2 separate regions of the Homo sapiens genome follow, and region 2 is linked to region 1. The links come from fine-mapping of genetic effects on gene expression. A gene starts in region 1. The other region holds a variant in brackets. All regions are shown on one strand. Distances are between the middles of the regions.

The links. PIP is the estimated chance that this variant, and not a neighbour inherited with it, causes the effect.
Region 2: its variant is fine-mapped to the expression of SLC6A7 in subcutaneous fat (GTEx, PIP 0.94).

Annotation. Positions count from the first base shown.
Region 1 is chr5:150,187,910-150,192,259 of GRCh38, reverse strand. SLC6A7 (solute carrier family 6 member 7) reads right to left here and starts at 2,198. Exons shown (of 14, transcript NM_014228.5): 1 at 1,900-2,198. The coding sequence starts at 1,932.
Region 2 is chr5:150,215,406-150,219,786 of GRCh38, reverse strand. It overlaps CAMK2A (calcium/calmodulin dependent protein kinase II alpha), which reads left to right. Exons shown (of 19, transcript NM_015981.4): 19 at 1-296. Among named protein-coding and RNA genes, the nearest start is that of SLC6A7, 28 kb to the right of the region's middle. The variant A/G (reference allele first, on the strand shown) is at 1,705.

The DNA.
Region 1 (4,350 bases):
TTAGGAAACCAAGTTTCAGGAAGAAGGGATGAGCCCAAGGTCAAACAGCAAGTTAAAGGCACAGCAAGACTTGGACCTAGATCCCCTGACTCTAAGTCCAGTGTTCATCTCTGAGCAATGCTGCTCCTTTGCGGAAATCTGGCATTTTCTCATTCCCGCCCAATTCTGCTTGAGAAAAGGGAAAGGACCCTGAGAGGAGGTAGCAACCTAGAACCAACCCTCTGCCCTGTTGGCTCTAGGTTGCCTAGCCTGCCAGCAGGTAAGCAGTGAGTCTCACCCCTCTGTGCCTCAGTTGCCTTATTTATAAAGTGGGGCTACTAAGACCTAGCCCCTGGAAGTGTTAAAGGATTAAATGAGATAAAGCTTGCTAACCCCCCAGCCCAGCACCCAGCAAGAGGGACAGGGCCTCTTGTGGGGAGGGAGGGCAGAGAGGGAAGAGAAGGAGAGTGGAAAAGAATGGAAACAGGACCCAAGAGACTCACAAATGGTCTCAAGAAGTCACTCATGTCAGTGAATAAAAAAGACATACCAGCTGGGCGCAGTGACTCACACCTGTAATCCCAGCACTTTGGGAGGCCGAGGCGGGCGGATCACGAGGTCAGAAGATCAAGACCATCCTGGCTAACACGGTGAAACCCCGTCTCTACTAAAAATACAAAACATTAGCCAGGCGTGGTGGCGGGCGCCTATAGTCCCAGCTACTCGGGAGGCTGAGGCAGGAGAATGGCGTGAACCCGGGAGGCAGAGCTTGCAGTGAGCCGAGATCACACCACTGCACTCCAACCTGGGTGACAGAGCGAGACTCCGTCTCAAAAAAAAAAAACAAGAAAAAGAAAAAAGACACACCACAGTGGTTCCAAGCCCAGCTGCCCCAGAGCAGAGAACTTGAATGAATGAGTGTGTGTGTGAGTGAGTGTGAGTGTGAATGTGTGTGTATGTAGGGAGGTTGATAACACCAGCCCCTGAGAACAGTCTTCTCACATCTACCAGCCCTTTAGCATTCTTCCCCACACCTCACACACCCAGTGGGGCCTGTTTTGGTGCCTCCAGGCTAGGGCTTAGCCAGAGGAGGTTCAGGTTAGAGAATGAACTTGTCCAAAGTCACCAGGCAAGTGGCAGCGGCAGAAATAGTATTCAGGAGATCTGACTCCTTAGTTAGGACTGGTACAAGCCAGAAAACGTCCCCCAGTATTCCCCCTCCCCATATCCTGACAGCTTGGCTGAGAGGTCCAATCCCACAAGGCAAGGTAGGGAGAGCCTGAGGTCTGGGCCCACAGCCACTCTCCCATACCAGCTTCCATCTTCATTGATCATATCCTCCTGCCTCCGATAGCCCCCTCCCTGTCTTTGCCTCCCTTCAGCCCTGCTGAGGGGCAGCCTGGGGTCTCAGCAGGCAAGCTAAGGGGGCGGGGAGGGAGCAGGCAGGAAAGAGGAGAGTCTTCCCGCAGGCTCAGGGAGCCGGCTTCAGTATGGATGACCGCCTCCCACTCCCCACCCCTCAGATGAGTCCAGCTCAACGCTCAGGTATTCCAATACCCCCCACACCCGGCAATCAGCTCCTGGCGGGGAGCAGCAGGGTGGAATTGGGGAAGAGGTGGGTGCCTGGCCCCGGCCGCCCCTACCCCGCGCCTCCGGGGACTGCAGACACCTGTTCATAGGCCTGGCCCAGTGAACCAGGACTCCCCTCATACTACATCCCGAACCCCAGATGGCAGGGGCAGAGGTGGGGGCGCAGACCGTGACCCTGACCCTCCCTGTTATCCAGCTGAGTCGGGCCTTCCCCAGAGCCCGAAGCTGGTCTGGGTGCATCCTCAGACCTTCCCCAGGGGCCTCGTTGGGGGCGGGTCTCTCCAACCCTCCTCCAGGTGCACCCCCAGCGCCCCCGCCCTCGTGCCCTACCTTGCGGAGGTGAGCTCCCTGGAGCTTCTTCATCTTGGAGAGCGGGTGGCCGGGGCTCAGCTGCCCCGGAGCGCAGAGAGCGAGGGCACGAGAGATGGTCCGCTGGCCACTGCGCCTTTGCCCCCGCGGCTCCCGCGCACCGGCTGGGGCGGGCACGGACGCAGGCGCTGCCGTCTGGCGGCTGCGGGCGTGGAGCGCGGGCAGGGCGCTGCGAATGCCTTGTCTGTCCCTGCGCAGCGCCCGAGGCTGGGGAAGGGTGCACTGCTGCGCCCGCATAGACACCCAGACAGACAGCTGACGGACGGACGGCGGGGGGATGCGCGCGCCCCCGCACGCAGAGCTGCGGATTGGAGAGCCCTGAGCGAGTGGGGAGGGGGGTTCGCGACGGAAACCCTCGGCTTTCTGCGTGACCTTGGGCAAGCGACCTGCCCTCTCTGGGACTCCCTTTCCACAGTTGGGCAAGGAACACTAACAGCCCACCCCCCTGCGTCGTCTTTGCTGTGCGACCTTAGGGGATAAGAATCTCTCCTCTCTTACAGGAGTGTGAGCAATTCAGGAAGATGGAGCATAGAAAACATCTAGCACAAAGAGCCTGACACATAGTAGGTGCTCAGTTAACATTTATTCACTGACTGTGGGTTGCCCACGCCACCATTAGTCCAATTATTCAATCTATCAGTATTTATTGAGCACCTAAAATGTGCCAGGTCCTGAACTAGGTGTCCTATTTTCTCAACCTGGAGAGACAGGTGTCGTTACTCCTATTCTACAGATGAGGAAGCTGAGGGACAGGGAAGTTAAGTTACTTACTCAAAGTCACGGGGCTAATGAGTGACACCAGGGACAGAGTCAGGCTTCATGGACCTTTAGGCTAGTAGAGTCTTCAACTCTCCTCCTTTCCTTAAGATGAAAGCAAAATGGGGAGGTTTGGGTGAGCAGAAGGGACAGGCAAGTGCCACAGTGTCACTGTGATCTGTGACTTAGATGATTAGTAACTGGTTTCCTGTCCAGCAGCAGTATGGCTTCTGGAAAGTTCTAATTTCATATCTGTAAAATGGGCCACGAGCCGCCCATGCATTGTTGCCTCAGAATGTTCTGAGGGTCCAGTGAGCCTGTGGCTAGGATGGGAAATGATGAGCTGGAGCAATGGCACACGTTGGTTTGCTGGGACTGACTGATAGACACTAGCGGATCAGTATATACATTACAAATTGTGTCCTTTTCACCCTCGCAAGTGTCCCAGTTTAGACATTAACCATACATCTGTTTGGCTCACTATCAGTTGACACGGTGGGAGGCCTTTGGGGAGAGATGAGAATAAGGTTCTGCTCTCTCCCACCTCTGGAGCTTGAAAAAAGGTTGGAGGGGTTTAAGTCAAAGCATGGACTTGGGTAAAGGCCTGGCCAGGCTCCAGTCCACCCCTTCCCCTGCCCAGGTCCTGTCAAACTTCTCTCCCCTTTGAGCCTGGCCACAAAGGGCAAACCAGGGGCTCTCCAGACCCAGGAGGAAGGTGTCTCCTCTGCCCCCTGCCTGCTGACCCATATGGGGCCAAGAGTGGCTGTGAGTGTGAAGAGAAGGAGCATTTATGGAGCCCTACTGTGTGCATTATGAAGGATTTTTGCATCCAACATCTAATTTTTAATTCTTTCCAACTGTCTGGGAAGACATGTTTGTGCATCTCATTTTACACCTGTGGAAACTGTCCCAGAGGAGTGAAGTCATGCACTGGGCGTTGGGGATGAAGCCAGGAAAGCTGTGGGTCATGGCTGGGAAAGGCAGAAGCCAAGGGCTCCTGAATCCAAGGAGGCCCAGGCAGGAAACTTCCCCATCCCTCACCCAAGGCTTGTCAATGCATCTTGTACAAAAGAGGCTCAACCTTGCTCAACCACTCCCTCCCATTGGCACTTGGGTTTCATGAGACCCTTTGGAAGGCACAGAGGGCCACAGGGACAGCGAGCAGGGATGAGGCAGTTGGCTCAGGAGCCAAGAAGACTGGCCTCTTTATGACCCTTCCTAGCAGCACCTGCTCCTCCCACTTCACGGACCCAGCCCTGGGGGAGAAGAAGGGAGTGGACCAGGGCTTTAGCTTCCCTTGAGCAGACACATCAGGGGGTGACCACTGAGCCACTGTGGCAGTCACTGGGACTGTGAGGTGCAAATGGATCTAGGCCCATGCCTTTCAGATAGGGAAACTGAGACCCAGAGGGGCAGGATTTGCAAAATCACTCAGTGATTCAGTAAAGACAGGATCATGTCTATAACCTAGGAGTCTGACCTCACCCAGGCTCTGCCCTCTAGCTCATACCTCTCTGCCACCATCACCTCCATCCCCACAGCCCTGGTGGGGAAAGTCTGCCCTTTCATAAAACAAACAAAACTCAAAGATTTTCTTTTCTTTATTTTTTTGAGAGAGATCTTGCTCTATTACCCAGGTTGATGTGCAGTGGCTCC
Region 2 (4,381 bases), 28 kb before region 1:
GTGCCCACCATGGTGCGAATCCTGACCCAAGGCCTCCTGTCTCCCTTCAAAGGGAGACCCTTTTGGGGGATGAGTTTGCCAGACTCCCCGTGCTGGTTTCTTTGTTACTATTTGTTTGGGGTTTTGTTTTAGTTCTTTTTTTTTTTCTTTTCTTTTTTAAAAATATGTGGCTGTGAACTTGAATGAACACTGCTCAAACTTTCTGCTATTGGGGGGGGCGGGTGGGATGGGAAGAAGGGGCGTTTGTTTTATTCTTGGTGTTTTCAGTGCAATAAATAGCTACAAACTTCTGTGCACTCTGTGTGTCCCTGTCTTGGTCAAGCCCCTGAGCTGGGAGGTTTTTGTTAGTTTCCAGTTCCAGATCTGCCCCATGGCAAAATAAAAGTCCTGGTCTTCATTCTGATTGGACCAACTGTGGTCACATGCTCAAGGCTGAGCCAGTCACTGTGGGATTATGCCTGGACCACATGCCCCACCTGTAGAGCCAGGGATGGGGTCAGCTTTCTCCCAGGCACATGGGGGTACCCTCAACAAGAGCAAAGGGGTGGCTATGGGTTGCCTGAGCAGCCAAGAGCTAAAGCCTCTCTTGGGCCCTGGGGCAAGGTTCTTCTCCTCTGGGCCTCAGTTTCCCTGTACAATGTGGAGGTTATTCCACAAGTCCCCCACCCATTCTCTTCCCTCAGCCCAGCCTCACAGATGAGTGCTCAGGACTCACCATGCCAGAGAGTGCTTTAAAGAATGGGGAAGGGGAGGAAGGGTCTCTTTACCCATAAACATATGTCTGGACCTAGTGCCTGGGACACTTTGGTCCTTGGAGCCCGAGCTGCTGGCTTCTGGCAGGGCAGAGCCAAAGTGGTGATGCAGAGGCTTTGGCCACCTTCAGGCCACGGTAGAGTGGCCAACCTTCCCAGATACCTGTGTGAGATTTTCAGTGCTCAAAACAGGACAGCACCAGGCCAACCAGACAAGCTGGTCACCCATCCATTGCCCAGAGGCCTGGATGCCACGGGGCCAAGGAAAGGTGCCCATCGGAGCCCACAGTTCCCTCTAGACCATACTCCGGGTGCCTGGCACTCCAGAATCCCTGCACCAGCTGCCTTCCGGGTCTATCCTCACTGCTGGTGTGTGGAATGGCCAGGGGCAGTGTCTATAGGGAGTGTGCCCCTTGCACACAGGGGAGGACCTTCACAGTAAGAACACAGGCCAAGGCTGAGAAAAGCAAGAGAGGCTTGGGGGCTTCCATTTGCCACCTTTGCGGATGATGTTTTAAATTTGAATTAGATGCCAATAGTAAAAAATGAAGAGTTTTTTATTATTGCGGACATCACCGATGTCCTCAAGGGTTTAGTGGCAGGCGTCCTCCCAGCCCTGCCTTCACTTGCCCCAGTGGCTCCTGCCTGGCCCCTGCAGAAAGCTTTGAGGGCTTGGGTGGTCATTGTGTCCCTTCACCAGCAGGTGGCAGCACAGGAGCAGGTTTCAGGCAGTCCTTGGCCCTAGTACGTCTACCATGCCCTGTGAGATATCCTTTAACTCTCAAAAAGTACCGACTCCACTTAAAACACTATTATTATCTCACAGGAGAATGATGCTCTACAGTTCACAAAGTGCTTTCACAACACCTCTTGTCCTAGTTACAACAGTCCTATTTTGAAGATGAAAATGATGAGACTCAAAGGCAAAGAGACTTCTTGCAAGACTCTGACC[A/G]GTGCTCACCCCAGCCTTCTAACTCAGAGCACAGTGCTCTGTTCCCTCCAGGGGCCTCCCCTGCCCTGGTCGGTGCTGCCCTGTCCCTGGTCTCTGGACAGCCAGCGAGGAGTGACTGGGATTCTTAGGACCTCCTCCCCTTTTGACACTCTGTCCCCTTCCAGCTACTGTCTTCTCTCTCGGTTGTCTACACCCACAGTCTCCATACTCCAAAGGGCACTGCAGAGGGCCATTTCCCTTGCATTTTCCCACTGAGCGCACTGTGACACCTTCTCACCCTTCAGGACATGGCTCCAGCATCTTCTCTGGGAAGTTCCCTCACCCTCCCCAGCCTCCCCCGTCCCTGGGCTAGGTCCCTCCATGGGCTTCCACAATCTGCTCCACCTTCCTCACCACAGATCTCTGGTTTGAAGTCACCTAAGCAAGTTTCTGCAGAACTGTGTGCTCCTTGAAGGCAGGACAGCATCTTGTCCGTGCTCCGGATGTACGTGGCAGATACTGTCATTCTTGCATAGAGAAGACCCCTAGCAGATGTGCCCCTGGAATGAAGGAGGAGTGGAGGCTGTGTGGGCATGAGTATTCCACCCACCCAGAAATAACAACGGTTAACAGTGGGAACTGACTGAGTGCCAGGCACGCCCCACCTCTTTTATAGGTGCTCTCTCAATCTTCAGCATACCCCTCCACTGAGGGCACTACTATTCTCTTTATTCCGTTAATAAGAAGGTGCCCAGAGGAAAGGAACCCACCCAAGATGGCCCAGGGCACGAGGGAGGGAGGTGAGATTGAGGCTCTCAGCTGCTGTGAACACCTGCTTCCCACACCTGCTTCCCACACCTGCTTCCCTGGGGCATGCTGTGGCTGGGCTGGGCTCCAAGGAGGGCTCAGTGATAAGCTAGACCTGTCTCATGACTTCTGTCCCCCAAGAATCTCTGATGCCATTCCAGACAGTGAGAGACATGCAAAGAGCAAGAACTCAAGGAAGGCTGGGATGGGGGCTGGATCTGGAGGTGCAAAGTGTGCAGGAGCCCAGAGGAAGGAGAAGGAGAGATGGTGACTGGGCTGGATAAAACTTCGTGGGGTGCTTGATGGGATGGAGGCAGGGAGAGTGTGGAGGCCAGAGCAAAGGCTGGGAGCCCAGAACTGTGGCGGCAGGGTGAGCAGAACAGGCTTGGGAGGAGGCCATGGGGGCCGGAGGTGTCTAAGGGCTGAGTGAGCCCCGAATCTGCCATGATGTGGTGCCTTCTCAGGGCATGGGTTGTGCTAAATCTTTCAGGAAACATCCCCTGGCAGGTGCTGGGGGGTGTGCATAGGGCAGGGTGGGGCAGGTCCAGTCCCGTGGAAATGCCCTCTCCTTGTCCTTCCTCCTGGGACCAGCCCTGCCCTCCCTTCTCCACCCAGGGCCACCAAAGTCTCAGAGGCCACTTCCCTCAGGACGCCCTGGCCCAGCCATTCCTTCCCAGACCCAGGGCCTCAACTGGAGGTGGAGGGAGCTGGAGGGGGATGACTCCTTCCTTCCAGGAGAAAAGGGAGGACTGTCAGCATCCTCTCCCAAAGTGACCTTGGAGGAGTCACATCCCCTCTCTGGGCCTTCGTTTCCTCATATTACAATGACACTGAACCTGTGGGCCCCATATGTGAGAACTGAGCTGGCTGCTGCAGATTCACCAGGGAGTTTGCTAAACACACAGATGTTTTGGGCCCCACCCTCACAGAATAAGAGCCATTCTTCTGGGCAGGGGTCCAGGCAGCTGTAGTTTTAGTAAAAGCCCAGGTTTGGGAATTTGCATGGAGCATCCCTTCCCCCTCCCCGCATTGTCCCCACCCCGTTTCCACAGTCACAATGGCAGCCTGAAGATGCAGTTATCAGGGAGCCCCACCCCAGGCTTCCCACTTCCCTGTCCTCCCCTGACTCAGCTAGATCAATATTGACCATAGGCCCCTCCCCTGCCTCTAAGTCCTACCACCCTAAGCCCCAAAGCTCTCTGAGACCCTGACCTCGGATCAGCAGAATCAAGGTCAAGCCAGGCTTGGGACTGTGATGATTTTATTGCTGTGCCCACGCTCACCCTGTATCCCCCTACTCCTAGTGATTGGGCAGGGCATTTGGCTCACTGGAAAAACCTTCAGGGCTCTGAATCCTTAAACTCATTCTGCAAGAGAACTGAGACTTCCTTCCTACTAGGCAGAGCCAATCCCAATCCATCTCCGAAGAGGGGTGCTGCTCCCCTCCCTAGCTCCCGTGGCATGGTCCCCAGCAGAAGGCTGCATGGAGTGGGTGGGAGCAGAGAGCTCCCTTTTCCTCACCTCCCTCCACCAAGGCACCTCTGCAGAGCCCTCTGTCCTTGTTCAACCCACTTGTTTTATAGATGGGGACACTGAGGCTGGGTCCTCAGGGCACACAGATGGTGCTGGCAAGCCTGGGCCTCCAGTTTAGCCTGTCCCTGGCTCCAGGCACACCAACTCCCAGCCTCTTTCTCCCCAGGCTGGTTGGAGGTGGGAGCTGAGCCTCAGTTTCCTTATCTGTACAAGGGAGAGCTGGCTAATGAGATGCATCCCATCTAGAGGGTTCCTGCATGCCACATTTTGTGCTAAGCACTTTGATCACATTTTAAAAATATGTATTGAGCATCTAATTTATCTCATTTAATCCCCTGCCAAGGGAAAGCTATTCTCC